Linked DNA regions of Homo sapiens: region 1 is linked to region 2. The links come from fine-mapping of genetic effects on gene expression. Tissue or cell type: whole blood. Region 2 holds a variant in brackets; the other region holds the start of a gene. Each region is shown on its reference strand, or each on the opposite one.

Region 1 (16,030 bases), not on the chromosome of region 2:
AGACTTCCCTTCCCCAGGTTAGGCTAACATCCCCCTCTCTATCATCTCTTCCTCCAGGAAGCCTTCCTTCCATGTACAGCTCCCAAGAGCACCGCACCGTTCCCATGACCTGGCTCACAGGAAGGGCTTTTGAGGGCTTAGCAGACAACTGTGCTTTCCCTGTAGACGGTATCTGAACAGCTGGGTGGGGCGGTCTGCAGCCCTTGTTTCTAGCGCCTGCTCAGCCAGGCCCAGCCCCGTTGTTGAGGCTCAGCCTGCTGCTCTGTGCAGTAGAGTGGTGGGTTGAGGAAAGGGTTTGTGGGCCGAGCTGTGGGCCCCATCTGTACCCCAGCCCCAGCTCACCTTGCAGCCTGGCCGCGTGGCCAGGGCTGCGTACCAGGCATTGTGCCGTGCTGTCCAAAGCCGGCTGCGCTCCTCGGCCTCCTTGGCCCAGGAGAAGTCAGAGGCTCCGTTCTGCTGGACTATCTCCTCTGCAGTTGGGGAAGGGGGGCTGACACCGGGCCGCCACTGAGGCAGCCCACCCTGCTGCCCCACTCCACCCCAGCATACCTGTGCGCTGCAGCTGCTCCTCCAGTGCCTGCTGGGAGCCATGGAACTCCAGGAAGAGTGTGGGCGCCACTAAGCAATTCAGCTTGCTGTACCTGTTGCAGGCATCCATCATGACTTCATCCAGGAACTCTGGATCCAGGGAGATGGCAGGCCAGGTGAGGCCTGGCCTTCCCAGGGGGCCTCTTCCAGGGAGCCCACCCTGACTGCCCCCATCCTCAGCTCACCAATGCGGGCTACGGGCACTGCAGCCTGGAGGATGTGTACAGTGCTGTCCACAGCAGCCTGGACACTGGGGAACGCACACGTGGCGGCCACTGTGGCCTCAGGGGCAGGGTGCAGGCGCAGGGTGGTGGCTGTGATGAGGCCCAGCGTCCCCTCGGAGCCCACGAAGAGCCCCGTGAGGTTGTAGCCGGCTGCACTCTTCCTACGTCCCAGGGACACACAAGGTGAGTACCAGGCTGTGTGATGAGGGATTTCTGGCCAGAAGCCGAAGCTGGAACCCAAGACACCGACCCCAGGCACTGAGGTCTGGGCTGGCCTCCCTCGGGCCCAGTTTCCCTGGCCCAGTGCTTTCTGCTCCACAAAGCCAGTCGGCCTCAGGCAGGGAGAGCAAACCCTGGTCCCATCCACTTTGGCCCAGCTGACAGGGCTTCAGAGCCTGAGGAAGCCTAGCCTGCCAAACCAGGGGGCCGCCAGGAGGTGCTTTTCACAGCCCGGTCTCTGCAGGGCAGCCCGCCAGCAGTGCCCAGGGCCAGAGCCCGGGCCCCCCGCAGAGGGCGCTCACCGGAAATGCCGGCCTCGGCCCGCCGTGTGCAGCAGCCGCCCGTCGGGCAGCACCACCTCCAGGTTGAGCACGTTGTCCCGCATGGTGCCGTAGCGGACCGCGTTGGTCCCCGACGCCCCGGTGGCCGCCATGCCACAGAGAGAGGCGTCCGCGCCTGGGTCTGGAGGGCGGCGTACAGAAGGCAGCCTCAGGGACCGGAGGTCCTTTCCCTCGGGCTGGGGGAGGAAGGTCCCCTGAACCCCAGACACAGCCCTGCTCCCACGGTGCCCTCAGGGTCCCAGGAAAGGTTCGCGAGTCCTACCCACGGGAAACCAGAGGCCGCTGTCCCGCAGGTGGGCGTTGAGGGCTTTGCGGGTGACACCTGGCTCCACCACCACAGAGAAGTCCTCCTGGTTCAGCTCCAGGATTCGGTCCATATGCGTCAGGTTAACGCAGACGCCGCCCTGGTTGGGGCAGGTGCTAAGACCACTGCAGACCTGGGTCTCTGACCTGGCCACGTCCCCGGACCACACCCCGCGGGTGTCCCCCCAGCAGCCAGACCAGACCCCCAGAGGCAGGCAGCCCACGGGCGGGAGCAGACCCAAGGTGCCGTGTGTGGCGGGGGAGGCAGCCACAGGTGTGCCAAGGTGTGCTGGGACCATCCTCGGGCCGGGCGAGGGAGCCCCACTGTACCTGCACAGCACAGACGCCACCCTCAAGCCCGGTGCCGGTGCCGAATGGGATGATGGGCACACCTTGGCGATAGCACAGGGCTGCCAGCCGGCTGACCTGCTCCACGTTCTGGGGCCACACCACAGCATCAGGAGGTTCGCACCTAGAACCAGACCCTCAGCGATTTAGCGGGGCGTGACACCCTCTGGTCCCGAGGTGTTGCAGGGCCTGAGGCTACAGCAAGCGAGGGGCAGAGAACATGCCAGAGCACCCCAAAACAGATGAGTGAGGAGGAAGGCAACCCAGCACCCTCTCTCTCAGCTGGGGTTGAATCCAGAAGACAGGGGAGGGGCCCGCGAACCCTCCCATACCTGTGCACCGACTCATCGCGCCCGTGCTGCTCTCGGACCACCGCGGCAGTGGACACGTGGGAGCCGCCCACCACGGCCTTCAGAGCCTCTACGAAGTCCCTGCAGAGCTCTCCCTGCAGGGAAGAAACACACTGCCAGGGTCCCCCGAAAGACACATGGGGCCACAGCCCTGCCCCAGTGTCGGGGGGAGGGCTGGGGGCTGGAGGCTGGAGTGAGCCTCCCCTGCGCCCGCCCCGCTGACAACATCCTTGCCAGGTGGGCCCACTTTAAACAAACCCACTATCCAGAAATGCCTCTTTTCCAAACAGAGCCATTGGGGGTCAAAGTTTCCCCTCAGAAAAAAACGCCACCAGAATTTTTTTAATGTTTTCTTTTTTAATAAAAACAGGGTCTTACTATGTTGCCCAGGATGGTTTCAAACTCCTGGGCTCAAGCGATCCACCTGCCTCGGCCTCCCAAAGTGCTGGGGTTACAGGCGTGAGCCACAGCGCCCAGCCATCCAAATAAAAAACCAGAATTCACTCTCCAAAAAGGCTATCAGCAGGGTTCCTTCAATAGCCAGCCCAGCCTGAGCAACCGAAAAGATCCCTCACTTCCTCCTTTCTCCAGGGCCAACCAAGCACCACCCCAGCCACAGGGAACTCAGAGCTTGATAAGGGAATTAGGGGGAGGAAAAGCTTCCACTGCCCCCTCCCCACTCTACGTTGCCTGGGGCTTCTGGGCCCTTCGTGGGGGGCGGGGCGCGGCGGGGCGGGGGATGTGTTTCTTCCCATTTTACAGATGAGAAATGGAGGCCAAGTTAAGGACAGAGCCTGGCCTGGAACCCAGGCCCTTTCCTTCAGGGCCTTCTTCCACAGGTGTGTTTTATTCCAGGGGCATCCATTTGACTCCCCCAGCCCCACTCATGGTAGCAGTGGGGACTCAGCTGATCTCACTCTACACCCACCCACAGTTGCCACAGGGTAAGCCCAGTGCCCTTTTGCCCAAGGTCAGGTCACTTGGTGCTGGGGCGTCACAGAGCCCAGGAAACTTGGGATCAGAACCCCCTGCTCCCCGCTCCCCACCTCATCCCTCCAGAGGACTTCTCTTCTCTCCCGGTACCTTTGCCTTCTGGGAGCAGTAGCCCCTCCAGGGGAACAGCTCCCAGGTTGCAGACCTGAGCAGTCGGGCCATAGCCAGGCACTGGCCAGAGGGTGTGAGCACTGGGTGGCAGGGTGACCAGTCAGCTACTGTGGCAGCAGCTACTGCTGCTGTCAGCCCATTGGCTAGGCCAGGGGTGGGGCCTGCTTAAGGTGGCACGGGCTTTAAGGTGGCCCTTGCAGATCTTGCAGACATTTTCGTGGGCTCCAGGGACGACACTTCTAAAGGAGAGGCGAGGTTCACTGGACGTTTTGGGAAACTGTAAGGCAAAAATAAAATTCTAAGCCTCCCAACCGACTGAATGGACCTCCCTCTCAGCCCAGGGCATTCCAAAATAAACCTGAAAAATTAATTCAGGCTGTGATGGGAAGAGGTTTAGGACAAGCCTCATTATCCCCCTCCTTCCTTTAGAATTCAGACACAACTGACCAGCATTAACATTAAAACAGAGACCTTAAGGCATTCTGATCTTAAGACACAAAACAGACTCTTTGTAGCAATAAGATACCAAATTCCAACCTGACTCTAGCATCACCTGACAGATAGCAGGCCCTGAAAGAAATCAATGTATTTTACCCCCAAAATATATTCCTCTGATTTTTTTTTTAAATAGCTCCAAAAAGCTGTCTTTTGTGGGGAAAATCTAGAATCTGTAGAGAATCCCCTCCCCTTTCCAGGTTTTTTGTTTTGTTTTGTTTTGTTTTGAGACAGAGTCACTCTGTGGCCCAGGCTGGAGTGCAGTAGCGTGCTGCAACCTCCACCCACTGGGTTCAAGCGATTCTCCTGCCTCAGCCTCCCAAGTAGCTGGGATTACAGGTGCCTGCCACTGTGCCCAGATAATTTTTCTATTTTTAGTAGAGACAGGGTTTCACCATCTTGGCCAGGCTGGTCTTGAACTCCTGACCTCGTGATCCACCTGCCTTGGCCTCCCAAAGTGCTGGGATTACAGGCATGAGCCACCGCGTCCAGCCTCTTTCCAGGTTTTATCCTGATCTAAGGGAGATTTAACTAAGAGTCTGGCACCTTTTAACGCCTTAGACATTTACCATCTATGTTACATAATAAGAACCTTGGGCCGGGTGCAGCGGCTCACATCTGTAATGCCAGCACTTTGGGAGGCCAAAGTGGGAGGATCACGAGGTCAAGAGATAGAGACCCTCTTGGCCAACATGGTGAAACCCCGTTTCTACTAAAAATACAAAAATTAGCTGGGCATGGTGGTACACGCCTGTAGTCTCAGCTACTTGGGAGGCTGAGGCAGGAGAATCGCTTGAACCCAGGAGGTGGAGGTTGCAGTGAGCTGAGATCGCACCACGGCACTCCAGCCTGGCGACAGAGCGAGACTCTGTCTCAAAAAAAAAGAACCTTGGTCTCCACAACTCCTTATCTTAACCCAGATGCTTATTTCTATTGATTCCAGGTTGTCTTTTTTAAAATTTTTTATTTAAAAAAAATTTTGTTGTTGTATACCAAGATTCCAAGTCTTTGGATAATAACTTCTTTCAACCAATTGAAAATCAGAAATTTTTTTTTTTTTTTGAGATGGAGTCTCACTCTGTTGCTCAGGCAGTGGCGTGATCTCAGCTCACTACAACCTCCATCTCCTGGGTTCAAGCTGTTCTCATGCCTCAGCCTCCCAAGTAGCTGGGATTACAGGAGTGCCACCATGCCCAGCTAATTTTTGTATTTTTAATAGAGACAGGGTTTCACCATGTTGGTCCAGGCTGGTCTCGAACTCCTGACCTCAAGTGATCCACCCGCCTTGGCTCCCCAAAATGCTGGGATTACAAGTGTGAGCCACCGTGCCCAGCGCCAATCAGAAAAGTCTTTGAATTCACCTATGACCTGTAAGCTCCTCCCTCAATCAGAAGGAACCAATGCATACCCTGCTTATATTGATTACTGTCTGATGCCTCCCTAAACTGTATAAAACCAGTTGTAACTCAACTGCCTTGGGTACATGTTCTCAGGACCTCCAGGGAATGTGTCACAGGTCATGGTCTTCATGTGAGTGGTGGGAAATCCATACAGGTCTACATAAAACTCAATGCTTGCCTCATCAGAAGAAAGAATTCTACTGAAGAGGTCTGAAAGGGAAATATCTTGAGCCCCCAAAATTACTAAGCTAAAGGGAAAAGTCAAGCTGGGAACTGCTTAAGGCAAACCTGCCTCCCATTCTTTCAAAGTCACCCCTCTGATCACTGAGCTAAATGCATATCTGATTGCCTCCTTTTGAGAGGATAATTAGAAACTCAAAAGAATGCAAACATTTGTCTCTTATCTACCTATGACCGGGAAGCCCCCTCCCTGTCTTTCCAGACCCAAACAATGTTCATCTTACGTATGTTGAGTGACGTCTCAAGTCTCCCCAAAATGTATAAAACTAAATTGTGCTCTGACCACCTTGGGGACATGTCATTGGGATCTCCTGAGGCTGTGTCACACCATCATCATTGGCAAAATAAACTTTCTAAATTAACTGAGACCTTTCTCAGATTTGGGGGGTTCATATTTTGGTAACCACAGAAGAATTCTGACTGGAGGCGCCCCTGACCTTTGACAAAGCTATCAGTGCTTGGTACCAGCTTGAGCTATCTTTATGGCTCAAACCAATAGGACAATTTGCTGAGGCCCGGAAGCACACCCTCCAGAGAATACCTTATCTTTCAAAATCTGGTCAAGATCTAAAGTTCATTTTGTTGTACAACTCCTCTTTTTTTTTTGGAGTTTTACTTGCTTCTAACACAAGGAAGGCAAATTTTTCCTGCTTCCATGTTGATGGAAGGCAGGTAACTCCTTTATGGTGTTTGAGCTCGCAACCAACAGGGAAGATGAGGGTTTTTCCCTGCTTCTAGGATGGTAGAGAGCAGTCTTCAGCCTGAAACCCATCCCTAGGTAAGTAACTGAATTGGGGTTTGTTTTGGCTAAAGTTAAGATTACAACCAGCTGGTCTTAATTTCTCCTTACCACTAGAAAGCTTAGTAATCATATAAATTGTGTGATCATTTGTTTTGCTTAACTGTTTTGTTGTTGTTCATTTCTCTTTTTGTTGTTCTTTCAGTCTTTTTCCCATTGGGTTTGATCAACTCTATCTGACTTGATCAAATACAAAGGAAGTCCCAAATTATGGGGAACAAGGCCTCTGAAGTGGCTAAATTCACACACACACACATACACAAAGGATGATGTGATAGGGGGTGAAAAACAGCCAGCAAAAGGAAAAAAAAAAGGAAAGATTTTTTATTTTGACTACTAAGTGGCTTTAGTTACACAACGAGGCCACCTTTTTGCTAGCCAGGCCAAACTGAAAGAGCAATGGCTGTGCTTCTGAAATAGCAGCAATTTGTCCTAGCTGAAATATGGTAATGAGATTTTAAAAGATTTTTTTAAAGGAGCTCAATGATTAAAAGTCAGCTTAATTAAAAGCTAACATCGAAGATGTGCATGTGTATGTGTGGTGTGTGTGTGTGTGCGCATGTGCGTGTGTGTGTTTGTATTTAAAAGGACTTCATGTTTTTGTTTTTGTTTTTCTCCAAGAATCTTGTCTTTTTTTGAGCGAAAGTTTTTTTCTTCTCAGTTGACTGAATTCTGTTTTCTTCATTTACTTCGGCTGTATCTCCTTTCTCTTGCACCCTCTGCTGCATGAGGGACCTAAAATAGTTTATAATAGCTGGGGTTCCTTAAAGAGAACAGAGAAGGCACCAGGCTCCCTTTAAGGGAGAAACCTGTTTTTTCTTATGCAATCCCCAGAGTGTAAACAGGCAAGTTCGTCTCGTCTCTTCAACTGCTTACTTTTGTATTGTTGTTACCTGTTTGTGGTTTTTTTTTGGGTTTTTTTTTGTTTTTTTTTTTGACTAAAATAGTTATTGCAACAGAGGTTACCCTTGGGTTTTTTTGTTTTTTGTTTTTTGTATTGTTTGTTTGTTTGTTTTGAGTCTGAGTTTCACTCTGTCGCCCAGGCTGGAGTGCAGTGGCGCAATCTCGGCTCACTGCAAGCTCCGCCTCCCGGGTTCACGCCATTCTCCTGCCTCAGCCTCCCAAGTAGCTGGGACTACAAGCGCCACCATGCCCAGCTTGTTTTTTGTTTGTTTGTTTGTTTGTTTGTTTGTTTTGTATTTTTAGTAGAGACGGGTTTCACCGTGTTAGCCAGGATGGTCTCGATCTCCTGACCTCATGATCCGCCCGCCTCAGCCTCCCAAAGTGCTGGGATTACAGGCATAAGCCACTGCACCCAGCCTACCCTTGGGTTTTTAAGGAAGACTATGGTTTAGACACTTAGAAATGTCTTTGTTTAAAAGAAGTTTTTTAAAAAGTGCACTGTAAAAGCATCACGTGTTCTAACCTCATAATAAGTGTCCCTTCTTGGAGACCCAGGATTCAGTGTGGGCTCTGCCCAGAGCTCAGAGATCCACTTAAAAGGTAGTCCCTTTATCTAAATAAAACTAGTCTCCTTATACAATCCTATGATAAATTTCTTTTTTGTTTTTTTTTTTTTGAGACAGAGTCTCGCTGTCACCCAGGTTGGAGTACAGTGGGGTGATCTCTGTACTCCAGAGAGTACAGACATAACTGGGACTACAGGCGCCCACCACCACGCCCAGCTAATTTTTTGTATTTTTAATAGAGACGGGGTTTCGCCGTGTTAGCCAGGATGGTTTCGATCTCCTGACCTTGTGATCCGCCCACCTCGGCCCCCCAAAGTGTTGGGATTACAGGAATGAACCACCACACCCGGCAAATTTCTTTAATTTTATGTTTGATTTGGCATTCATCTTTCATCTCCCTCTGGCACCATCAGACTTTTTCTCTCTGTACCTTATGATGTAAATTTTGCTATTTGATTTTCACCTGAGTTGTTTCCTTTAATATGCAAACATAAGGCTAGTTAGCTGACAACTGCCTAGGGTTGTGAAGCAGGTTATCAATAATCTGAGTGTATCCATAAGATGTACTTCTATCAGCATGCCTAATACGTCTATGTATTTATGTGTTGTGTACACAATGCTTCACTACTGAAAATGCTTAAAAGAGCTCTAATTAACTGGCTTAAGAAAATAAAAGTGCTCGAATGAAATGCTTTATCAGGAAAAAAGACTCGTCAAATATTTTTTCAAGTTTATGTAACTCAGTAAAATTATTAATAAATAAGCTAGCCTTAAAATTACTGGTAAAGTAATATTAGAAATGTCTGAAGAATTGCCAGCATACATTTTTGTTTGCATATTAATCCAGCAGTTTCATACTTATCCCTGCCAAATACTATAAGGTGTCAAAATTTCTCATAGGGGTTACAAAACTGTATACCCAGCCCAAAACAGAATGATCTTTGCTTGTGTAAGCTTGTTAGAAATGCAAAATGCTTATTCCCCAGTGCCACAAAGAAATAGCACTCAAACATAAATTTAGTTTTCTCAGCAAGGCAATTTTCACTTTCTGCAGAAAAGGTGCCCCTCGCAGATGAAACAATGGTGAGAGCACACTTGGACAGGGGAGGGGCAGGAGTTCTTATTCCTCATGCAGGTAGCCCCTACTGCTGTGTCGTTCCCCTATTGGATAGGGTTGGACCGCACAGTCTAAGCTAATTCCAATTGACTATTTTAAAAAGAGCAGGAGTACCAGCCGGAGTGGCAGGGTGAGTAGTTTAGCAGTAAGGGCGGTTACAGAACAGTTGGCTCAGGATGAATCAGGACAGAGTAGGTGACCAAGAGTGACTCAGGTCAAAGCAGGTGACCAGGGGAACAGCTGTGAACTACTGATTAGGACTGGCGGGAAAGTTGTTTACTGAAACTAGAAGCTAGGGGGCAAAGAGAACCAGGAAGCTAAACTTTAAAATGGAGAATCAAAGAATAAGAGAGCTGAACATACTGACATACTGATTCTTTGAAGAGAAACTTGGAGTTCACTATATTTAACAAATCTTTAATAAATAAGACATTAATATTGGTTTAATAAAAATAGCTACATCTTAAATTTAGTAAGATTACCATAACTTCTCATCTTGTGGCTTTAGGCAGTCCGGTCTATAGGCAATAGTGTTTGTTTTGGAAAAGCACTGTTATCATCTTTGTTTCAAAGCTAAATTATAAGTTCCTCCCAAAGTTAGTTTGGCCTATGCCCAGGAATGAACAAGAACAGCTTGGAGGTTAGAAGCAAGATGGAGTCACTTAGGTGCAATCTTTTTCACTGTCTCAGTGATAATTTTGCAATGGCAGTTCCATAATTTTAAATAATGACAAGCACAGTTTTTATAAATAATCTAGGTAAGTAATTAAAATAAAATAAGTAAATATTATAGGATAAATATAGACAAACTCATAATTTTGAATCTAAAGTTAAATAATAGAGATTTTATTATTTGGGTATTTTCCAATAAAAATATATTTGGGCCAAGTGCAGTGGCTCACACCTGTAATCCCAGCACTTGGGGAGGACAAGGCGAGTGGATCACGTGAGGTCAGAAGTTTGAGACCAGCCTGGCCAACATGGTGAAACCTCATCTCTATTAAAAATGCAAAAATTAGCTGGGCACAGTGGTGCATGCCTGTAGTCCCAGCTACTCAGGAGGCTGAGGCAGGAGAATCACTTGAACCCAGGAGGTGGAGGTTGCAGTGAACCAAGATCATGCCACTGCACTCCAGCCTGGGCGACACAGAGACTCTGTCTAAAATATATATATGTGTATATATATATATATGTGTATATATATTTGTGGAATGTTTTCCTACAAATATATATATAAGAATGTGTGTGTGTGTGTGTGTGTATATGTATATATATATATATATATATATATATATATATATATATATATATGTAGGAAAACATTCTTTTTTTTTGGAGAAAGAGTCTTCCTCTGTCACCCAGGCTGGAGTGCAGTGGTGCAGGGTTCAAGCAATTCTCCTGCCTCAGCCTCCCAAGTAGCTGGGACTACAGATGCATGCCACCATGTCTGGCTAATTTTTTGTATTTTAGTAGAGACAGAGTTTCACTATGTTGCCCAGGCTGGTCTCGAACTCCTGAGCTCAGGCAATCTGTCCACCTCAGCCTCCCAAAGTGCTGGGATTACAGGTGTGAGCCACCACACAGGCCAAAAACATTCTTTCTTAAAAAAAGTTGTGTCCCAGCCAGGTGTGGTGGCTCACACCTGTAATCCCAGCACTTTAGGAGGCCAAGGAGGATGCATCACAAGGTCAGGAAATCAAGACCATTCTGGCCGACACGGTGAAACCCTGTCTCTACTAAAAATACAAAAAAAAATTAGCTGGGCCTGATAGCACGCACCTGTAGTCCCAACTACTCGGGAGGCAGAGGGAGGAGAATCACTTGAACCCAGGAAGCAGAGGTTGCAGTAAGCCAAGATTGCGCCTCTGCACTCCAGCCTGGGTGACAAAGTGAGACTCCATCTCAAAAAAAGTAAAATACAAATAAAAAATAAGTGTGTCCTTTTGAAAAAGGTGAACAATTTTTGTCTAATTGAAAGTTTTTTTTTTTTGAGACAAGAGTCTTGCTCTGTTGCCCAGGCTGGAGTGCAGTGGTACAAAGCTCACTGCAACCTCTGCCTTCCAGGTTCAAGCGATTCTCCTGCCTCAGCCTCCCAAGTAGCTGGGATTACAGGCACCCACCACCACTCCTGGCTAATTCTGATATTTTTTAGTAGAGACAGGGTTTTGCCATGTTAGCCAGGCTGGTCTTGGACTCCTGACCTCAGGTGATCTGCCCTCCTCAGCCTCTTAAAGTGCTGGGATTACAGGCGTGAGCCACCACGCCCGGCTTCAAAGCTAATTTAAAGGTCATGTATAAAACAAGGTAAAAGGGGCCGGGCATGGTGGCTCACGCCTGTAATCCCAGCACTTTGGGAGGCTGAGGCGGGTGGATCATGAGGTCAGGAGATCGAGACCATCCTGGCTAACACGGTGAAACCCCATCTCTACTAAAAATACAAAAACAAAATTAGCTGGACGTGGCGGCAGGCGCCTGTAGTCCCATCTACTTGGGAGGCTGAGGCAGGAGAATGGCATGAACCTGGGAGGCGGAGCTTGCGGCGAGCTGAGATGGTGCCACTGCACTCCAGCCTGGGCAACAGAGCAAGACTCCATCTCAAAAAAAAAAAAAAAAGCAAGGTAAAAGGAACCAGGGAATAAAAGAGATGTAAAAAAAAGTTATAAAAATAAAGAGGTTTTTTTTTTTTTTTGGTAAGAAAGCTTAAAGAGAAATAATTTCATATGAGAAAGAATTTTGTATGATAAATTTAGTACTAAAGTAAAATGGCTGGTAGTTTAAGAAAGAGGAATGGGCTGGGCTCACTGGCTAAGGTCTGGAATCCCAACACTTTGGGAGGCCGAGGTGGGTGGATCAAAGGTCAGGAGTTTGAGACCAGCCTGGCCAACATGGTGAAACCCCATCTGTACTAAAAATACAAAAATTAGCCAGGCATGGTGGCACGCACCTGTAATCCCAGCTATTTGGGAGGCTGAGGCAGGAGAATTGCTTGCACCTAGGAAGCAGTGGTTACAGTGAGCTGAGGTCATGCCACTGCACTCCAGCTGGGACAACAGAGCAAGACTCTATCTCGAAAAAAATTTTTTTTTAATTAAAATTATCACATCCTTCTATCTGCCTGTATGTACTTTTGTTTGTTTGTTTGTTGTTTTGTGACGGAGTTTGGCTCTTGTCGCCCAGGCTGGTGTGCAATGGCACAATCTCAGCTCACTGCAGACTCCACCTCCTAGGTTCAAGAGATTTCTCCTGCCTCACCCACCCAGGTAACTAGGATTACAGGCATGCACCACCACACCTGGCTAATTTTGTATTTTTTTAGTAGAGACAGGGTTTCACCATGTTTGTCAGACTGGTCTTGAACACCTGACCTCAAGTGATCACCCACCTGGGCCTTCCAAAGTGCTGGGATTACAGGCCTGAGCCACCGTGCCCAGCTGGAAGTTGTATTTTATGATCAAGATGAAAATTTTATAAATTGTTTATAAAATTTTGGAAAACAAATTTAATTGGCTTCATGTTGTTTTTACTAGGGCTTATCATTTAAATCTCTTCTCTTAAAGAATGAAGGTTTTCAGGCCGGGTGCGGTGGCTCATGACTGTAAGCCCAGCACTTTGGCAGGCCGAGGAGGGCAGATCACCTGAAGTTAGGAGTTCAGGACCAGCCTGGCTAACATGGTGAAACCCCATCTCTACCAAAATACAAAAATTAGCCAGGCATGATGGCAGGTGCCTGTAATCCCAGTTACTCAGGAGGCTGAGGCAAGGAGAATCGCTTGAATCTGGGAGGCAGAGGTTGCAGTGAGCAGTGAGCTGAGATCAACCCCCTGAACTCCAGCCTGGGCAACAGAGCAAAACTCCATCTCAAAAAAAAAAAAAAAAAAGAATGAAGGTTTTCACTGTATTTTTTAAATCCTTGAGTTATCACTTTGGTTAAATGAATTCTTCTTTTAATTAATTAACTAATTTATTTATTTACTTTTGTGAGACAGAGTCTTGCTGTGTCGCCAGGCTGGAGTGCAGTGGCACGATCTCGGTTCACTGCAACCCCCGCCTCCCAGGTTCAAGCGATTCTCCTGCCTCAGCCTCCCAAGTAGCTGGGACTACAGGCGTGCATCACCATGCCCAGGTAATTTTTTTATTTTTAGTAGAGACAGGTTTTCACCATGTTGGCCAGGATGACCTCAATCTCTTGACCTCATGATCTGCCCACCTCAGCCTTGCAAAGTCCACCCGCCTCGACAGAGTCTTGTTCTGTCACCCAGGCTGGAGTGCAATTGTGCAATCTTGGCTTACTACAACCTCTGCCTCCCAGGTTCAAGTGATTCTCCTGCCTCAGCCTCCTGGGTGGCTAGGATTACAGGCATGCGCCACTACACCAGGCTAATTTTTGTATTTTTAGTAGAGATGGGGTTTCACCATGTTGGCCTGCTGGTCTCAAAATCCTGACCTCAGGTGATCCACCCACCTTGGCCTCCTTAAATGCTGGGGTTACAGGCATGAGCCAGCACGCCCAGCCAGTTAAATGAATTATTTTGCAATGACTTGTAATCCTATTTTGTAATATCAAGTGTTTTATACCTTTGATATTTGACAAACTTTCCAAGATAAAATTATAAATTATGTTTTTTTCTGACCTAACTAGTCTTTTAAAATGTTATTAATAGGTTCTCTAAAATCCAAAAATGACATATTTGGCTTATTTGGTCTAAAAATTATACAGGAAGCATTGTCAAATATAAAATGGTGTTTGGTTTTCTTTGGGCTGTATTCCTATAAATATGTTATTGGTATGTGTCCCAAAATTATGAGAAACTCCTATAATTCTGATCTGACTTAATGTACATTATCAGTAATAACCATAATTGTTATGTTAAATTATTGTGTGCTGCAGAAGTAACAAATTTCCTTGCCAATTGTATCTTTGACTATGGCTGCTCTAAAACTTTTTGTCATTCACGGATAATCGTCTTGTTTTGGTCCTCTTTGGTTTTACAATCAGCTATAAAACTGATTTTATAAAAGGTAGTTTTATAATCAGCTGTAAAACTCTAAAACTCTAACAGGTGCTCTTTTTTTGGGCAGGGAAAGAGTCTCCCTCTGTTGCTCAGGCTGGAGTGCAGTGGCATGATCTCAGCTCACTGCAACCTCTGCCTCCTGGGCTCAAGTGATTCTTAACTCCGGCCTGGGCGACAGAGCAAGACTCTGTCTCAGAAAAAAAGCATGAGCATGAAGAGGGAAGCATGAGGAGATCAGTCTCCCAAGTAGCTGGGACTGCAGGCATGTACCACCACGCCTGGCTAATTTTTGTATGTTTAGTAGAGATGGGGTTTCGCCATGTTGGCCAGGCTGGTCTTGAACTCCTGGCCTCAAGAGATCCGCTGGCCTCAGCCTCCCAAAGTGCTGAAATTATAGGCATGAGTCACTGTGTCTGGCCTAACAGGTGCTCTTGAATGCAGGTTTCTGATAACTTTGGAGATTGTGACATCAGCATAAAGGAAAAACTTTCAGGATTCAGGGAGGGCTGAAATGTTCATGAATATCAAGCAGAACAGGAATTAACTGCATGGACTAAACTAATAGAAGTCTGAAGTAATCTTTTTAACTTTTTGCTTAAAACATTGCTGATCTTTGTTTTGCTTTTCAGAGTCAAGAAAACTTTTAAGCTATTTACAACTTTTAACAATTGAGTTAAGTATACTCAAGAACAAAATTCAGAGCATATTTGTTTCTCTCTACCTGATTTCTACAGATTTTGGAAACTATTTGTGAGTATTCCTAACTTATGACAATACAGTTATTTGCATAAGTGCAAAAAGAATCTGTTTTCATTTGTAACAGGACACCATTGGAGAAACTAGTTATTTTTACCAAGACTTTGACCAGAACGGTGTGCTTTCCTTTAAGGAATCAAACTTCACTTATGGAGCCAATAAAAGCCCCTTGAAAAACTGGCCTCATACCTTTGTCTACACAGTCCCTGTAAAGGGTTCCTGACCTGTGGTAAGTAAAGAATGTCACTGTGGGGCCCAGGAGCCCCACGTTTATCTTGGAACCTCAAGAGGAGAAGAATTTACCCAACTCATCAGTATTTGATGGTACAAATTCATGGCTGGGCTCGGCTTTAAAAAAAGTCTTATCTGAGATTCCTTCTCTGGGACAACGTTCCATCAAAACCAGTTTAAAAGCCTGTGTAAACATTAATTATTTTTGCTGTAGTGTATACAAATAATTAGGCCAAGTACAATAAAGCAAACCAGTCCTACCATGATTTGTCTTTAGTAAAAATAGGAAACTAGAGAGAGGAAAATTATGTTTCCAAAACTATAGTAACACTCATTGTTAGATTCTAGTCTTGTCTAATATTTTTCAATTCTTATTATTATCTACAGTTTGAACCAAATTCTAATTTTTCTTGGCAACGTGTCTTCAAAATAATGTTTTCAAATTTTTCCTTCTTTTTTTCCCCATTTTGCCTAATCTGGAGTCACTGAAAACTAAGCTGTGTTTTCATAAAGCCCTGTGAACTGAAGCTGGACAACTTAAACTTCAGAAGAAAATAACAGCAACCTATTTATATTTATATACATAAGCCACTTTTTTTGTTGTTTGTTTATTTTTGAGACAGAGTTTTGCTCTTTGTGTTGCCCAGGCTGGAGTGCAATGGCACAATCTTGGCTCATTGCAACCTCCGCCTCCGGGGTTCAAGCTATTCTCCTGCCTCAGCCTCCCAAGTAGCTGGGATTACAGGAGTGCACCACCACGCCTGGCTAATTTTGTATTTTTAGTAGAGACGGGGTTTCTCCATGTTGGTCAGGCTGGTCTCAAACTCCCGACCTCAGGTGATCCGCCTGCCTCAGCCTCCCAAAGTGCTGGGATTACAGATGTGAGCCACCGCGCCGGGCCAGCCACTTTCGTATCTGTCTACTGATGTATGGACTTCGGAGTAATGTGGCCTATATCAATTTTTCAGGATTGTTCTTTTGTTTGTTGTTGTTCTCCTTTCCTCCCCCTATTTTCTCTTCAGAGGACGTGAGAC
Region 2 (16,030 bases):
CTCCTGGGTTCAAGCAATTCTCCTGCCTCAGCCTCCCAAGTAGGTGGGACAACAGGCATGCCCCACCATGCCCAGTCAATTTTTGCATTCTCAGTAGAGACAAGGTTTCACCATGTTGGTCAGGCTGGTCTCGCACTCCTGACCTCAGGTGATCCACCTACCTCAGCCTCCCAAAGTGCTGAGATTACAGGCGTGAGCCACCGCGAGGAGTGGCATTGCCTGGACACTGCACAGTGGAATTTATATAAGGATGTGATGTTAGAGAACTACAGAAACCTGTTCTTCCTTGGTATTGTTGTCTCTAAGCCAGACCTGATGACCTGTCTGGAACAAGGGAAAAAACCTTTGACTACGAAGAGACATAAGATGATTGCCAGACCCCCAGTTATATGTTCTCATTTTGCCCAAGATCTTTGGCCAGAGCAGAGCATAAAAGATTCTTTCCAAAAAGTGATACTGAGAAGATATGAAAAATGTGGACATGACAATTTACAGTTTAAAAAAAGCTGTAAAAGTGTGGATGAGTGTAAGGTGCACAAAAGCGGTTATAATGGACTTAACCAATGTTTGACAACTACCCAGAGAAAAATATTTCAATGTGATAAATATGTGAAAGTCTCTCATAAATTTTCAAAGTCAAACAGACATAAGACATACTGGAAAAAAAACTTTTAAATGTAAAGAATGAGGCAAAGCTTTTAACCAGTCCTCAACCCTTACTACACATAAGAAAGTTCATACTGGAGAGAAACGCTACAGATGTGAAGAATCTGGCAAAGCCTTTAAGCTGCCTCTAACCTTACTACACATAAGATAATTCACACTGGAGAGAAACCCTACAGATGTAGAGAACGTGGCAAAGCTTTTAACCACCCCTCACCCCTTTTTTCACATAAGAAAATTCTTATTGGAGAGAAACCATACAAGTGTGTTAAATGTGGCAAAGCCTTCATTTCATCCTCAACCCTTATTAAACATGAGATAATTCATAGAAACTCTACAAATGTGAAGAATGTGGCAAAATTTTAACTGTTCCTCAAACCCTACTAAACATAAGATAATTCATACTGGAGATATACCCTACAAATGTGATCAATGTGGCAAAACCTTCACCTGGTTTAGTCAAGCCTCACTAAACATAAGAGAACTCATACTAGAGAGAAACCTTACAAATGTGAAGAATGTGGCAAAGCTTTTAACTGGTCCTCAGCCCTTAATAAACATAAAATAATTCATATTGCACAGGAAACCTACAGAGTCAATAATGTGGCAAATCTTTTAAATGTTCCTCAACCCTTAATAAGCATAAGATAATTTATACTGGAGAGAAACCCTATAAATGTGATGAATGTGGGAAAACCTTTAACCAGCCCTCAACTCTTAGTAAATATGAGAATTTATATGGAACATAAACCCTACAAATATAAAGAATGTGACAAAGCTTTTTAAGGAAGTTCTCAACCCTTATTACACATAATTCATACTGGACAGAAACTCTACAAGTGTAAAGAACGTGGCAAAGCCTACAACAAATTCTCAATTCTTTTTTTTTCTTCTTTTTTTGAGACAGAGTTTTGCTCTTATCACCCAGGTTGGAGGGCAATGGCATGATTTCACCTCACTGCAACCTCCGCCTCCTGGGTTCAAGCCATTCTCCTGCCTCGGCCTCCCAAGTAGCTGGGATTGCAGGTGCCCACCACTATGCCTGGCTAATTTTTGTGTTTTTAGTAGAGAGGGGGTTTCACCTTGTTGGCCGTGCTAGTCTCAAACTCCTGACCTCAGATGATCCACTTGCCTCAGTCTCCTAAAGTGCTGGGATTACAGGCATGAGCCACCATGCCTAGTCATAAGTTCTCAATTCTTAAGAGACAAACGATAATTCATGCTGAAAAGGAACTCTACAAACCTGAAAGATGTGACAGTACTTGTACAAACACCTCCAACTTTGCAATACATTAAAAAAAAAAGTTATACTAGTGTGAAACCCTAGAAATGTATAAAACGTGACAAAGCCTTTATATGGTTGCCACACTTGATTGTAGGTAAGATAATTCATACTGGCAAAACTCCTACAAGTATAAAGAATGTGGCAAAACTTTTAATCTGTGCTTACACCTTATTTCACAGGAAAGCTATTACCCTTGAGAAAAATTGTCCACATATAAAGAATATGGAAAAGCCATTAATGCTAGTGATTTTTGTACACTGATTTTGTGTCCTAAAACTTTGCTGAAGTTGTTTATCAGCTGAAAGAGCTTTTGGGCTGAGATCCTATATCTAGAAAATTTATATATAATATATATAAATATATATATAGAATCCAGACATAGAATCATATCATCTGCAAACAGGGATAGTTTGACTTCCTCTCCTCCAATTTGAATGTACTTTCTTTCTTTCTCTTGCCTGATGGCCCTGGCCAGGACTTCTGACAATTAATTTTTAGGACCACTTTACAATGCTTACTGAATATTTGCAGTTCCCTACTGTTTGTAATAGTAAAATATTGGGACAATTTGAAATGACCAACAATTAAAAATTTTTAAAGACAACCCAAATATCCCAAAATAAGTAGAGGAATTAAATTAATGAAATTATGGTAAGTTACAAAATAGTACATATTATGTAATATCCCTTTGTTTTAATGTATCTATATATGTATGAAGAATATGCAACGATATATACTATACAGTGAATGGCAGTTGTCTCTAAATAGGCAAGATTATATGTGTTTGTAATATTGTTCCTTTACTAATTTGTTTGTGGTTTTTTGCTTGATCTTGGTTTTTGAGCATAACATGTCCACCTGACTGTGTAATAATATAATTAATATATTAATTAATAGAAATCCCATTGTTTAATATTTATATTGGATTTTCCTTCCCCCGGCTAATCATCACTCTCATATATTTAGGTTATCCAACTTTTTGCCATCAAAAAGAACTCAACAGAAATAACTGGGTAAACCTGAATTTAAAATAATAAAGTAAAATAGGGGAGAAAATCCTGAAAAATGAATAAAATTCCTTAAAGAAAAAGAATTGTAAAATCACCCCAGACATGCCAAAATCAGTTAAAACCAGTGGCCAAAAAAATGTTAATTTTAATTCATTCTTGAGCTTTCGAAGCAATGGTGACTGTATCACAAACTACTATTATTTGCAGTTCCCAGAATTTGGGATTAGGTCTTTGTCTGCATGGGTACCAAGTAAACAACAGGTACTTCATGTCTTATTCATGTGCTGTCTTCTCTGTGAAGCCTTTCCTGATTCCTCCAGACATTGATAGATATCCATTGCCATATGCACCCTTCTTGTACATATTTCTGTTTTATATTTTACCATAATGTAAAGTAAATATTTATGTGTCTGTCTCTTCCATTAGATTAAAAGCTCCCTGAAAGCAGAAACCATATCTTAGCATTTTTATATTCTCTGCCTTATCCCTAACACAGTGAAATATGAATGAAACTGCTATAAAAAATGCCTGAGTTACTAAATCTGACACAGTCACTTCAACAAACATTTAAGTGCCTGCTTAGAGTGGAAACATTTATGGAAGCTATAAAAGGAACTAAAACTGTGGCTCTTCACCATAAGCAGCTTAAAAGGTTAATGGAGAAGTTTATATAAGAATATAGGTAATTATAAAACACACAGAATAAATCTTAGAAGTCAAATGAAGTGTTATAAGTGTATAGCAAAGGGAGAAGTTAATTCCGTCTAAAAAGGAGGGATTAGGGAAAGTTTCCTGGAAGAGTCAGTATATCAGAGAAGCTTTAAAAGATGATTAGGATTTTAAAAGGTCAAAATGGTAAGAAAATATAGAGAACTGGCTGGGCACAGTGGCTCACACCTGTAATCCGAGCACTTTGGGAGGCTGAGGCAGGTGGATCACTTGAGGCCAAGAGTTCAAGACCGGCTTGGCGAACATGGTGAAGCTCCATCTCTACCAAAAAATACAAAAATTAGCCAGGTGTGGTGCCACGCACCTGTAGTCCCAGCTACTCGGGAGGCTGAGGCACAAGAATCGCTTGAATACAGAAGGCAGAAGTTGCAGTGAGCCAAGATCAGTGGAGTGCGCCCCTGCACTCCAGCCTGGGTGAAACAGTGAGACTCTGTCCGCCCCCCCAAAAAAAAAAAATAGAGAACCGAGTAGAATCCAGTCTCACTTTCATATACAGTGGGTGAGGAGGAGTATTTTCTTTTTTAATTAGAAAAACAGCGTAGGATTAGTTCCTGGATATCCTTAATTTAGAAATTTGGAGAAGTCAGTTTACAACCGTTTAAACTGGTAAAACAAGATTTCTTCTTTATGCTCCAAACTATACCTTGAAAAAAATTTTACTTTACCATCAAATAACTTTTAGAACCCAAAGATTATCAATACATGTGATTTTTTTTCACACATGATTTTCATTAGAGTAGTCAGATTAGGTAGGATTTTAGGAGGGGAGAATGAAAGACACATTTCAAATTAGGTATAATGACTTTCAACATATCCAAAGTGTCCCATATAAAATAAATCTTAATTCTATTCTTATTTGTGCTAAGAAAAAAAAGGAAAAAAATTAAAATGCCTTGTCCAAGATCCAAACTAAAAGAAAATTAAAGAAAATATACTTACTGTAACACAACCTTTAGAAGCTCCTTTTATTTTACCAATATAAACAGAAGTAAATATAAAATCCAGTTGTAGATCCATCTCATTACTAGGCATAATACTGGAAATGTTCTCCATGACAGGATTATATGGGCATAATTCAGATGACATCTAACAAGGAATAAATCATAAAATGCATATAATTCTTAAGTACTATATAAATGCTGAAAATGACTTTCACCATCAAATTCTTCTTTAAATTACTATTAGTGAATTTTTGAAGAACTTTATACTGTTCTTACTGTGAAGAAATAGCTATCTAGATTTTTTTTCTGAAAAAATATATGACTTACCTTTGAGAAAATTACACTAAATAGCTGAATCCAAAATTAATTCCACAGCCTAAGCTCCAGAAATATATACTCCTCTGTATCAAAGCCATGGTTTCACATTCAATAGTCTCTAATAGGTTTTATTCATTTTTAACTTGACAGAAGAAAGTTTTAAACATATATTGTACTTTTGTTTAAAATAGGTTTTTAAATATATTATCTCTTTTAATCCCCACAACCACCCTATAGGCAGGTTTTTCAGTTTCCCATTTCATAAATAAAGTTAACAGATGTTTAGATTGGTTAAGCGACCTGCCTAAAATCATGCGATTAGTAAGAAGCAAAACAAAGATTCAAATGCACGTTTCTCTCTCCAGGTCCAGTGTCACTTCAACCACATAAAATTGTTTCCATTAACCAAAATAATGTTCTTGCTACTGCACTTTAAAATTTTTTTATTTTAGATTCAGGGGGCATATGTGCAGATTTGTTACAAGGATAATATTGCGTGATGCTGAGGGTTGGGCTTCTATTGAACCTGTCACCCAGATAATACCCAACAGGAAGTTTTATGGCCCTGGCTCTCCTCAACCCTCCCCCTACTTTTGGAGTTTCCAATGTCTATTGTTCCCATCTTTATGCCTGTGTGCTACTGCACTTTTAATATGCCGTGAAGGAATGTAAGTACCTAAGAACCATCTGTTATCTCAAATTTATATGCTTTATTGTATACTCTATGTTTGAAGACAACCAACCAGAAATGGCTTATACTTGCCTAAAACCTCAAAAATCATATCACTTCCACTCAAGTGACTATATAACTTTGCTTTTAAATTATAATAGAAAACCAGGCAATATCAGCAGCAACTCTTTCCCACTGTTTCTTCTGAAATTTACACTACTTTCAGATGACTTTTTCAACTTTTTCAAATGTGCCTAACCTCTGCACATTATCCGTAACATCACACATTACCAAACAGATTACTACTAAAGCAGTTATTATGCATATGTACTCACTCCCCTCTTACCTCTCGCAAATGTGACTAATCCTTATCTAAAACATATATCATACTCATTATTTTAAACCCAGCTCATAACGCCATTTACCTGCTTAATTGAATTTCTTTGTCATTCTCATGTTTTATTGCTTAGTATACTATTAATATCTTCTTATTCCCTAAGTAAAAAAGGGAATCAATCAATCAAATCAAATCAGGTAGCTCCAACATCAGTCAGACAAATAACTGTGGGCTTTTTTAGTGATAAAATGAGAAGTTGGTATAGAAATAATTTCTCATTGGGTTTCACATTTTGTAAAAACTAGCTGGCTCCTAAAAATGACCAATCCATATTTCTCATAATTCATTTAAAACTGGAACAAGAGAGAGCATAGAGATGTGGCATTCTGCCTTATATGTCTTTGTAGATCTCCACAGTATTGGCTGCTTGGTTGTGATTATGAATGTAGTAAATTCCACAAGATATGTTATTTTCTTATAATATGATCATTTCATACTACATTGTCAATTTATACCCTGCCAAGACCTAATTCTTCTACAAGTTTAAATTCATTATCAATAATGACACTTTTAATTATATATACAACTAAACCATCAAGTAGGATATTGACCCCATCTGGTAAAAATGGTTACATTTTTGCAAAAATTCAGAACAAAGCTGCTGAGGTGATTTCTACGTGGAATACCAAATACAAAAGAAAATACCCATGAAACAATAATCAGACCAAACTGTTTTCATAGATCGGGCCAACTCTTCACCATACTCTGCAAAATAACAGCCTCTGACATTATTCAAAAACAAAACAAGATAAGTTTACCATAATTCTGCACTGGTGGTCAATGATCTTTTCTTACAAATAGAATAATCACAGACTAATAATAAGAAAGAGTACCAGCTGGGAGCGGTAGCTCATGCATGTGATCCTAGCACTTTGGGAGGTGGAGGTAGGAGGATTGCTTGAGCCCAGTAGTTAGAGACCAGCCTGGACAACAAAGAGAGACCCTCATCTCTAAAAATAGTATATATTTTAAAAACATTAGCCAGGCTTGCTGGCATGAGCCTATGGTGCCAGCTACCTGAGAGGCTGAATGAGAGGGATGCTTGAGCCCAAGAGGTTGAGGCTGCAGTGAGCCATGATCATGTCACTGCACTCCAGCCTGGGTGACAGGGCAAGACCTTGTCTCAAAAAGAAAGAAAGAAAGAAAGAAAGAAAGAATACTGATAATAAATGATTTGAACCTTATTTTAGACCTACTCTCTTCAAAGGACTGAATTAATCGACTGATATTAAACTAACACACTTCCATTTATGATTTTCTATAAGAATGAAGAGGCAGAGGACTTACCAAACTTGATAGGTTTCTGACCTATATCTCCAAAGCCATGTTCTTTCCTCTATATCATACTGCCTTCATAGTATGTGAGGAAAAGGAGTAATTCCAAGTAGCCATAATACTCCAAGACCAGACATATAAATACTAGAAAATGTGTTTAATTCTACAAAATGTTAGTGAAATGTCCAATGAAAGCCATAAAAAAAGAAAAATATTCAAGTAATAGACTATTCAGACTGAAAAATATAAATCACCAGAAGAAAATGGCATAATCTTTTCATTTCAAAATAAAGACAACTACGTATTTCACTCAAACTACTATAAAAGTTGTCTGAAAATTCAAACTAAGAAAATTTGTAATTTTCATTACAATATTCAGCTTGATAAAACAAATAACAGTCATTAACCAATAGTGTACATTTCATTGTTAATCTATGAGAAGACAGAAATAAATTACCTGTACAGATTCACATGTAATCAATGGTAGTTCTAACAATGCTGATTCAGAAGTACTCTCATTTTCATTAGTTGTCTCACGGTCTTGCTTAGATTGTAACTTAAGAATTTCTGAACTTTTATGTTCAACAGGTCCTTCTTCATCACTGGAAACAACAACTAAAACGGAAAAGAAAAATGTATTTTTGTTTATTTATTTATTTATTTATTTATTTTTTGAGACACAGTCTCCCCATCTCGGCTCACTGCAACCTCCACCTCCCGGGCTCAGGCAATTCTCCTACCTCAGCCTCCCGAGTAGCTGGAATTACAGGCATGCGCCACCATGCCCAGCTAATTTTTGTATTTTTAGTAGAGACAGGGTTTCACCATGTTCGCCAGGCTGGTCTCAAACTCCTGACCTCAGGTGATCCTCCTGCCTTGGCCTCCCAAAGTGCTGGGATTATAGGTGTGGGTCACTGCACCCAGACGAAAAATGTATTTTAAATGTGTAACAATCACATATCAAAAAAAGAACTTTTGGCCGGGAGCAGTGGCTCACTCCTGTAATCCCAGCACTTTGGGAGGCTGAGGTGGGTAGATTCCCTGAGGTCAGGAGTTCAAGATCAGCCAGGCCAACATGGTGAAACCCTGTCTCTAGCAAAAATACAAAAATTAGCCGGGCATGGTGGTACATGCCTATAATCCCAGCTACTTGGGAGGCTGATTAAGGAGATTACTTGAGCCCAGGAGGGGGAGGTTGCAGTGAGCCAAGATCGCACCACTGCACTCTAGCCTGGCCGACAGAGAGAGACTCTGTCTCAAAAAAAAAAAAAAAAAAAAAAAGAACTTTCTAATTAATGCAATTTATTTTTAATAATCCTGTTAAACTGAATCATCTAAATTTATTCAATTTAGAAACAGGCCTATCAGTTGTTATCTGATTTA[T/C]AGTAGTTACAGACAATGACTCTATATCAGCGCAATTATTCAGCAGTTACCTGTACCCTTACCTTCTAAAGAATAAAGATGTTTAAAAATGGATAAAGCCATGAGGAGGCCTTAGTAACAAATTCTAGTTCTAACAGTGTATTGTGCCATCACTCTAAATTGTACTTTTAAGTCCTGTTACATGAATTGCTTCAAGGAATGGGAAATTAATAACTAGGGGAAGATGTGGGCGAGTATTCACTGGAGATCCTTTAAAACCTTTGGAATTTCTTTGTACCATGTGATGGCATCAACTACTCAGAAGCTGATTAAATGAAAATTAATGATAATAATCAGATAGCACTTAAACTCTGCATAATTCATCAACCAAATGACAGTAATGATGGTCTTTAAATAATCTATTTTAAAACTATTGAGATGACAGTGTACTTACTAATCTAAGAAAAAAATTACTTCTGTTTTCAAGTCCTCCATTAGTTTACCTAAATCGATATTTTAAAACTCATGAAGGAGACCCCAAACCCCAAGCCCTTTTTTCCTAAAGTTAATATATTCCACAATGATGTCATAAACAGCTTATGGCCTTAGCCAAATTTGTTCAAGAAGAATAAAAAAATAACTAAGTAAAGCAGAGGAAATTAAGTAACTTTATAATCCTCCTGTCACTTACTTGGTTCAGCTGAGATCAGTGATTGGTTCCCTTCATTATGTCCTCTTAGAATAGGCTTTTCTATGGTATTCAACTCATTCTCATCCTTCTCAACCAGGGAAGAAATCCCCACAATATCAATGGAATTAGAGTTCTCAACGGTTTCAGTGGTTGAACCGGCAGAGGCACTTTTGGTGGCATTACTCAAAGTCAACTCCTGACTGTTAAGTGAGGATAGTTTAGTAAAATCACTTTTTGTAGGTTTAGTTGTAATTTCTTCAGGCAGTTTTGGATCCTGATGATAGTTTTCACTTGGCTTTTCAAACTCAGTGGATATTGTTGAGTCATCTTCTTGTTTTTTCTAAACATAAACACATAGAAAAAAATAGCATTTTTCAAATTTGGCTTGCTTAAACCATTTTTAAATTCCTAAAAAAAAGTAAAAATATTATATCACTTCTATAACTACATGGATAGAAAACTAAACAATTATACTACATTATACTTGCCAATGTCTCCCAAATTTAAAGATACAGGATTTGGTCTGTCCAATCTGATGCCTGATAATTTTTTAAAGGGTGAAATTGGGAGATTTCCATCATTACAAATGCTTTGTCAGACGGTCTCCCATGATCTAAGTCAACTTTAGAATGAGAAGATGTATTTACATATTTTTATTTTGCAAAAGTAATAATGCCAATGTGACTACTTTGGTAAAACTACTTTGGTAAAAAAATTTAAAAATCAACAATATAACAACATTAAAAATTATGAAAATCAACCACTGCCTTCAATATCTCATTTACTATATAAATCTGAATCATGTTTATAATTACAACCCAAAAACATTACAAGGTCCTGAAATGATTTATGGATCAAAGAAATTGAAAAGCTGTCTTACTGTTTTATTGCTACTTATATACTAAGTCTTTGAAAATAGAAAATGTATGTATTTAATATGATAATTCTTTACTTAGAATAAATTCCCTAAACTCTAGATAAACAGAAGCTTAAAGAATTTGATAAGTAAATTGCTACTGATAAAATAAATCTAATAATAATTTTACAGAGCAAGCAAAAAAAAATGACTAGACAGTATGAATAGTATTTGGCTGAAATAAAGAAAAAGAAAAGTCTGAAGGATGTACAACTACCTACTAAGGAAAGAGCGATACAAGAAAATAAGCAATTTTAACTTTTTTAATCATTCATAGTATTTGAAATGTGTTCCAATAACTCTGTATCACCAAGAAAAGTTACATTTAGAATTGTTTTTTAATAATAAAGCTAACAGTGAACCAAAAACTAAAGAAATCTCATAATAAAAGCTGAAAGCTAGAGGAACATTATTTGGCCACAGTCAACTCGTTTTTATCATAGCATGAAATTATTTCCTATAATATCTAAATACCTCTACTTACTGTCTGTTCTGTTGACTTATCCAAAGAAGTACAATATTGAGAATCAGGTAAATTATTTCTAAGCCTTCTCTTTGTCTTCCTGGAAATCAGAGTGAGTTCCACTTTTGAATCAGAATATTTAACATCCTTGTTTCTGCTTTCCTGTTCGAGATGATCACAACCTCTACTTCCACTGTTAAGGTCTTAAAAAACAAATGAAGCATAAATATGGACAAAAAAGTATAGAGAGAATCTCTTTTAGAAAAGCTCGAAGTAACATCATCAGGATTGCTATACTACTTCCAAAGCTCATTAAAACAGAAATGTACTGTTAAATTCTCATACTGACACTGGATGAAGGTAAAGGCATGCCCTATTTTAATTGGTATATACCAAGTAAATGTTCATTATACAATAGTTGTGAGGTGAGAAAAATATATAAAGAAGAAATATCCTTTTTCATAGTAGCCAAAGCAAAGCCACCAAACTGTTTTTCCATTTGCTATAAATGCATTTGGCTGTACTATCAAAAAAAAAAGGGGATTAAGAAAATGTGGCCCATATACACCATGGAATACTATACAGCCATAAAAAAGGATGAGTTCATGTCCTTTGTAGGGATATGGATGAAGCTGGAAACCATCATTCTCAGCAAACTATCACAAGGACAAAAAACTAAACACCACATGTTCTCACTCATAGGTGGGAACTGAACAATGAGAACACTTGGACGCAGGAAAGGGAACATCACACACTGGGCCTGTTGTAGGGTGGGGGGTGGGGGGAGGGGGGAGGGATAGCATTAGGAGATATACCTAATGTGAAAGATGAGTTAATGGGTGCAGCACACCAACATGGCACATGTATACATATGTAACTAACCTGCACGTTGTGCACACGTACCCTAGGACTTAAAGTATAATAATAATAATAAAAAAGGGGGGGTCTTATTAAAATCCAGAAAATTCATGTCTTAAAGTTTGATAATTCAATGTGACTTTATAAACTAAGTCTTTTAAAATGTAATTTACATAAATACATATTTTTAGTGGAAAGGGACTATAATTTGAAAGAGTGTTGATCACTGCTCTTTAAAAGGAGACAAAATACCTTTGCTCTGTAGTTGGCTATAATATGTGATCATTCACAAGGTTACCAATTTACTTGCCAGTTTATTTCTTCTTTTCAATAATCAAGACCCTGTCATTTTAAGTCTCCAATAAATCCATCATTCTAGAGAAGTACTTCCTTTTTTAAGTCAACAAGACATCATTTTGAAACTCATGCCAATCATTACTAAAAATATTTAATATTTGTTATCAAATATATGTACTGTACAAAAATACCTTCCAAAAGTTTCCACCTAATTGACTAAAAGTTATCCTGAATTATTTTGCTTTCTGAATCTATGTCATACAAGTACCAACTCAAAGTTTATACACAGCAAGTCACAAAGCAGTTGCCTTTAATTCACAATTTTCAATTCATCTGACTGGCCTGACTTTTCCATTCACGGAACGTTCTTCAACACCATACATCTTCTCTTCAAACTATTCTTGCTTTTACTGTAGCTTCAACAATTCCTAATAACTAATATTCATGATAATTTGTCTTTGACATTACTTAAAGGAAGGCACTGGAACAGGATTGAGGGTAAAAATTCCAAGATAGTCAATCGCCTTTCAATTTCCAGAGAAAACACCTTACTCCCTAAGGAAAATAAAACTCCCCCCAAATCATCAACACAATATTTAGGATAGCACATTAAATTTTATATGTAATATTGTAAACTATAAAAGTGGTCTAATACAATTTCTACACACAATGTATCAAACTATAATTTCTAAACATAAATATTATACTACAGTAAAATGATTCATGAAAGGAAAGGGGCTTGAGAAAAACTTGATTATACAGGAGTTTTCTTTTAAACAATTTATTATTTGCATATCAGTCAAGCCTGTCTCATGGAAAAAGGAATAACTTTATTATATAGAATGAAATATTGTAAAAATAGAATTCCACCTGCATAATATATAATTCAACCTGCAAATATTACTAGCATATAAAACTAAAGAGGTGACAAAATCCTGTAAACAAAAGAATACTAAGTATTTCCAAGGTATTATGTTGGTGAAAGCAAATTCCACAAGGCAAACTTAATGTGCTATGGAAAAAAATGGTACACCTAAGATTTCATTCAGAATTTCCATTAATTTACAGGTTTTTAAAAAATAACTGGTATCAGATGTAGGAGAGTAAACACTGCTTTAATAAAGATTCAATAGCTAATTGTATTAGAAACACTTTCCCTACCAGTAGTGGTACCTTCAGGGATACTGAAAAACTAAAAAATGTTTCTTTTGTCATGTACTCTTCCCTGATGCATGTCTAAAATGCCACTGTGATCTTGAGGTAACACTCCTGGGTACAAATCAGAAAGTATTTTATTCAAGTCAATGTGAGGACTGTTAGTCCTCACATTCTACTGCTTTCCTGGGTAGAGTAGGAATCTTTGTCTTGATAGTACCTGAACTGAGCCCACTTGTACAAATACTTACATTTTTACTTGGTAATCAATACAGTCATCCCTCAGTATCCTCAGGGGATTGGTCCCAGGGACCCAGGATACCAAACTCCATGGATCCATAAGCCCCTAAAGGTATAGTATTTGCATATAACCTATATACATTCTCCTGTATAGTTTAAATAATCTCTAGATTACTTATAATACCCAATACAACATAAATGTTATGTAGTTGTTATATGTATTTTTTATGATTGTATTATTTTTATTGAAGTTTTTTTCAAATATTTTCCATCTTTGCTAGGTTGAATCTACAGATGCAGAACACAAAGATACACAGAGATGATTGTAATTACTTCTAAGAAAAGTACAGTTTATAAGAAAATAAATGTTTTTCATTATACACTGACAGTGACTAATTGGAAGCTTGTCTGAACAAAGTCACAGCACATTCTCCAAAGACTGCCTTTATAAGAGTTTCAGCTGGTTTCTTGTACAAATAAAAGTTATTACTGTAGTTTCATTTTAAATTTTTTTCTATTAAAAAGGCTACTAAAAAGAATCTTTAAATAGCTGTGCTCCAAATGAAGTGTAATGAATTTTTGCACAGCATCATCAAAAGATTTTTTTGTATTGTGAATAACTTATGAAATCACTCAAAAATAAAACAGTGGCCAAGCGCGGTGGCTCTTGCCTATAATCCCAGCATTTTGGGAAGCCGAGGCAGGCAGATCACTGGAGCCCAGGAGTTTGAGACCAGCCTGGGCAACACGGCAAGACCTTGTCTCTGCAAAATACAAAAAATTAGCCAGGCGTGGTGGTGCATGACTATAGTCTCAACTACTCGGGAGGCTGATGTGGGAGGATCACTTGAGCCCAGGAGGTAGATAGAGGCTGAAGTGGGCTGTGATCATGTGTGATCATGCCACTGTACACCAGCCTGGGTGACAGAGTGAGGCCCTGTCTTAAAAAGAAAAAGAGAAAGAGAAAAGCAAGAAAGAAAGCAAGCAACAAAGAGACTTCAACAACATTTGAAGCTATCAATAATCCAACAGACCCCTAAAGGTGTTAGTTTCACAAATAAATAATGTAGTAAAATTGTTTTTCTTCAAGTATCAGTAAAATATTTTTAATTCTTGAAAGAGAGGCAAAAAAGAAAAAGAAGTCGAATCATAAATCCTATATGCAAGGAGGCCTACAAAAAATTTTCACAAGTCTAGGAAGTATTTACCTTCAAATTTGCTAATAGTGGCTTGTTTGGCATCCTCCTGAAGTTGAGAGAAATTCTAATGAATAGAGAATGTATTTCATGGTAGGCAAATAGACAGTGATTAGCTAATAATAAAAACCCAGTTAGCAGTAACATTAATATCCATGGAAACAACACTTAGAAACAGCTAAATGAACATAACTTCATAGCTATATCCAAGTCTCCCCAAAGAAGAAAAAAATATATTAAAATTTAACTTTTGGGATTAGTAAATAAATCTAGAAATGAGTACTACGCTACATAAAGAGTAGGTTTAGCAATTTTATTTGTGTTGCCAAATAATCTCCCTTTACTTTCACATATCCTTTCAAAGTAAAATAAAATAATTTATTTATAACAAAAATTATTATTAATACAATAAGAAAAAATTCAAATTCCAACAGTTTTCTAAGGTTCACAAACCTTCAGGCTGAGTATCAGATATTAAAAGAGAAATGCCATCATCCTTTCTTCGTTTTTCTTTATTGTGCGCAGTCTGCTTTGCAGAATTGTCATCTACTGTCTTACTTCGTTGTGAGCCCCTGCAAAAGAGAACTGTATTATACTCAATTCTAATAAAGCCCAAATGAATTTAGAAGCCAACTAGCATGTATTTAAAAATCCAACACATTACAAACACAGTCCCACATGGCAGACTATAAGATCTGGGTAGTAAAAAAAATATTGAACTCAGATTTAAGAAATAAGTTATCCTCCCTTTTCTACCTTTAAATTCCCCATGTGTGTTTAGGGGGAAAAAAAATGAGATATCAACATTGGAGGATTGTGTACATGCAAAATGAGCAAAAGAGTAATACTATACAAGTATTAAATTAGGTTTAAAAAGTAAAATTCCAAGGACACAAGTACCTCAATAATTAAACCTATGTATAGGCAAACAATTATAAGCCAAAGCTGAATGTTAATATATTTCAAGCGTGGTTCATATACCAAAAGTATGGTAACAAATTTTCAGTAGTATGTGGTAATAAATTTTACCTACAGAGAAAATAATTTAAAGTCTAAGGTACTGGTAAAATAACAAATTTTGGAATGATAGTCACAATGTTACTACTAAGGAAAATTTAGAAATATAAAACATACTATAATGTATAAGTGCATACATATGAAACAAAATATAAAAACTTAGACTGGAAGGATTCAAGCCTATTTGGGTAGTAGATAACTCTAAAGAGGGAGAGTATTAGAATCAGGGAATATAAAATAAATAAGTTTTCAACTTTCTATAATACTTCTTTAAAAACAAATTTAAATCTGAAAAAATAGGAATTATATTGGTTAAATCTGAGTGATATGTATTGGCATATTATTCTCTATACTTATGTACATATTTGAAGTATTTCATAATTTTAAAATATATAAATTATTTACAACTAAGGCAACTAGTATAAGTCAAAAACAAGGACTATAAAGACCAATTACACGTAATGCTTCCTTGTTTTGAGAGAATTATTTGGAAGGCTAAAAATGACTTATAAATTAAAAAAAGCTACAGTATCCAAACATCACCAGT

What was found. PIP is the estimated chance that this variant, and not a neighbour inherited with it, causes the effect.
Region 1: LDHD starts here. The variant in region 2 is the best candidate, but not a certain one, in a credible set for the expression of LDHD in whole blood (TOPMed, PIP 0.53).

Annotation. Positions count from the first base shown.
Region 1 is chr16:75,113,193-75,129,222 of GRCh38, forward strand. LDHD (lactate dehydrogenase D) reads right to left here and starts at 3,588. Exons shown (of 11, transcript NM_194436.3): 1 at 3,457-3,588; 2 at 2,356-2,468; 3 at 2,006-2,147; 4 at 1,635-1,776; 5 at 1,334-1,493; 6 at 774-973; 7 at 550-678; 8 at 343-470. The coding sequence starts at 3,528. It also overlaps a transcript of ZFP1 not described here. RefSeq lists an enhancer at 2,819-3,113.
Region 2 is chr3:101,357,089-101,373,118 of GRCh38, forward strand. SENP7 (SUMO specific peptidase 7) reads right to left here. Exons shown (of 24, transcript NM_020654.5): 7 at 14,920-15,038; 8 at 10,742-10,923; 9 at 9,342-9,681; 10 at 7,746-7,903; 11 at 4,627-4,773. It also overlaps the pseudogene ZNF90P1. Among named protein-coding and RNA genes, the nearest start is that of IMPG2, 45 kb to the left of the region's middle. The variant T/C (reference allele first, on the strand shown) is at 8,672.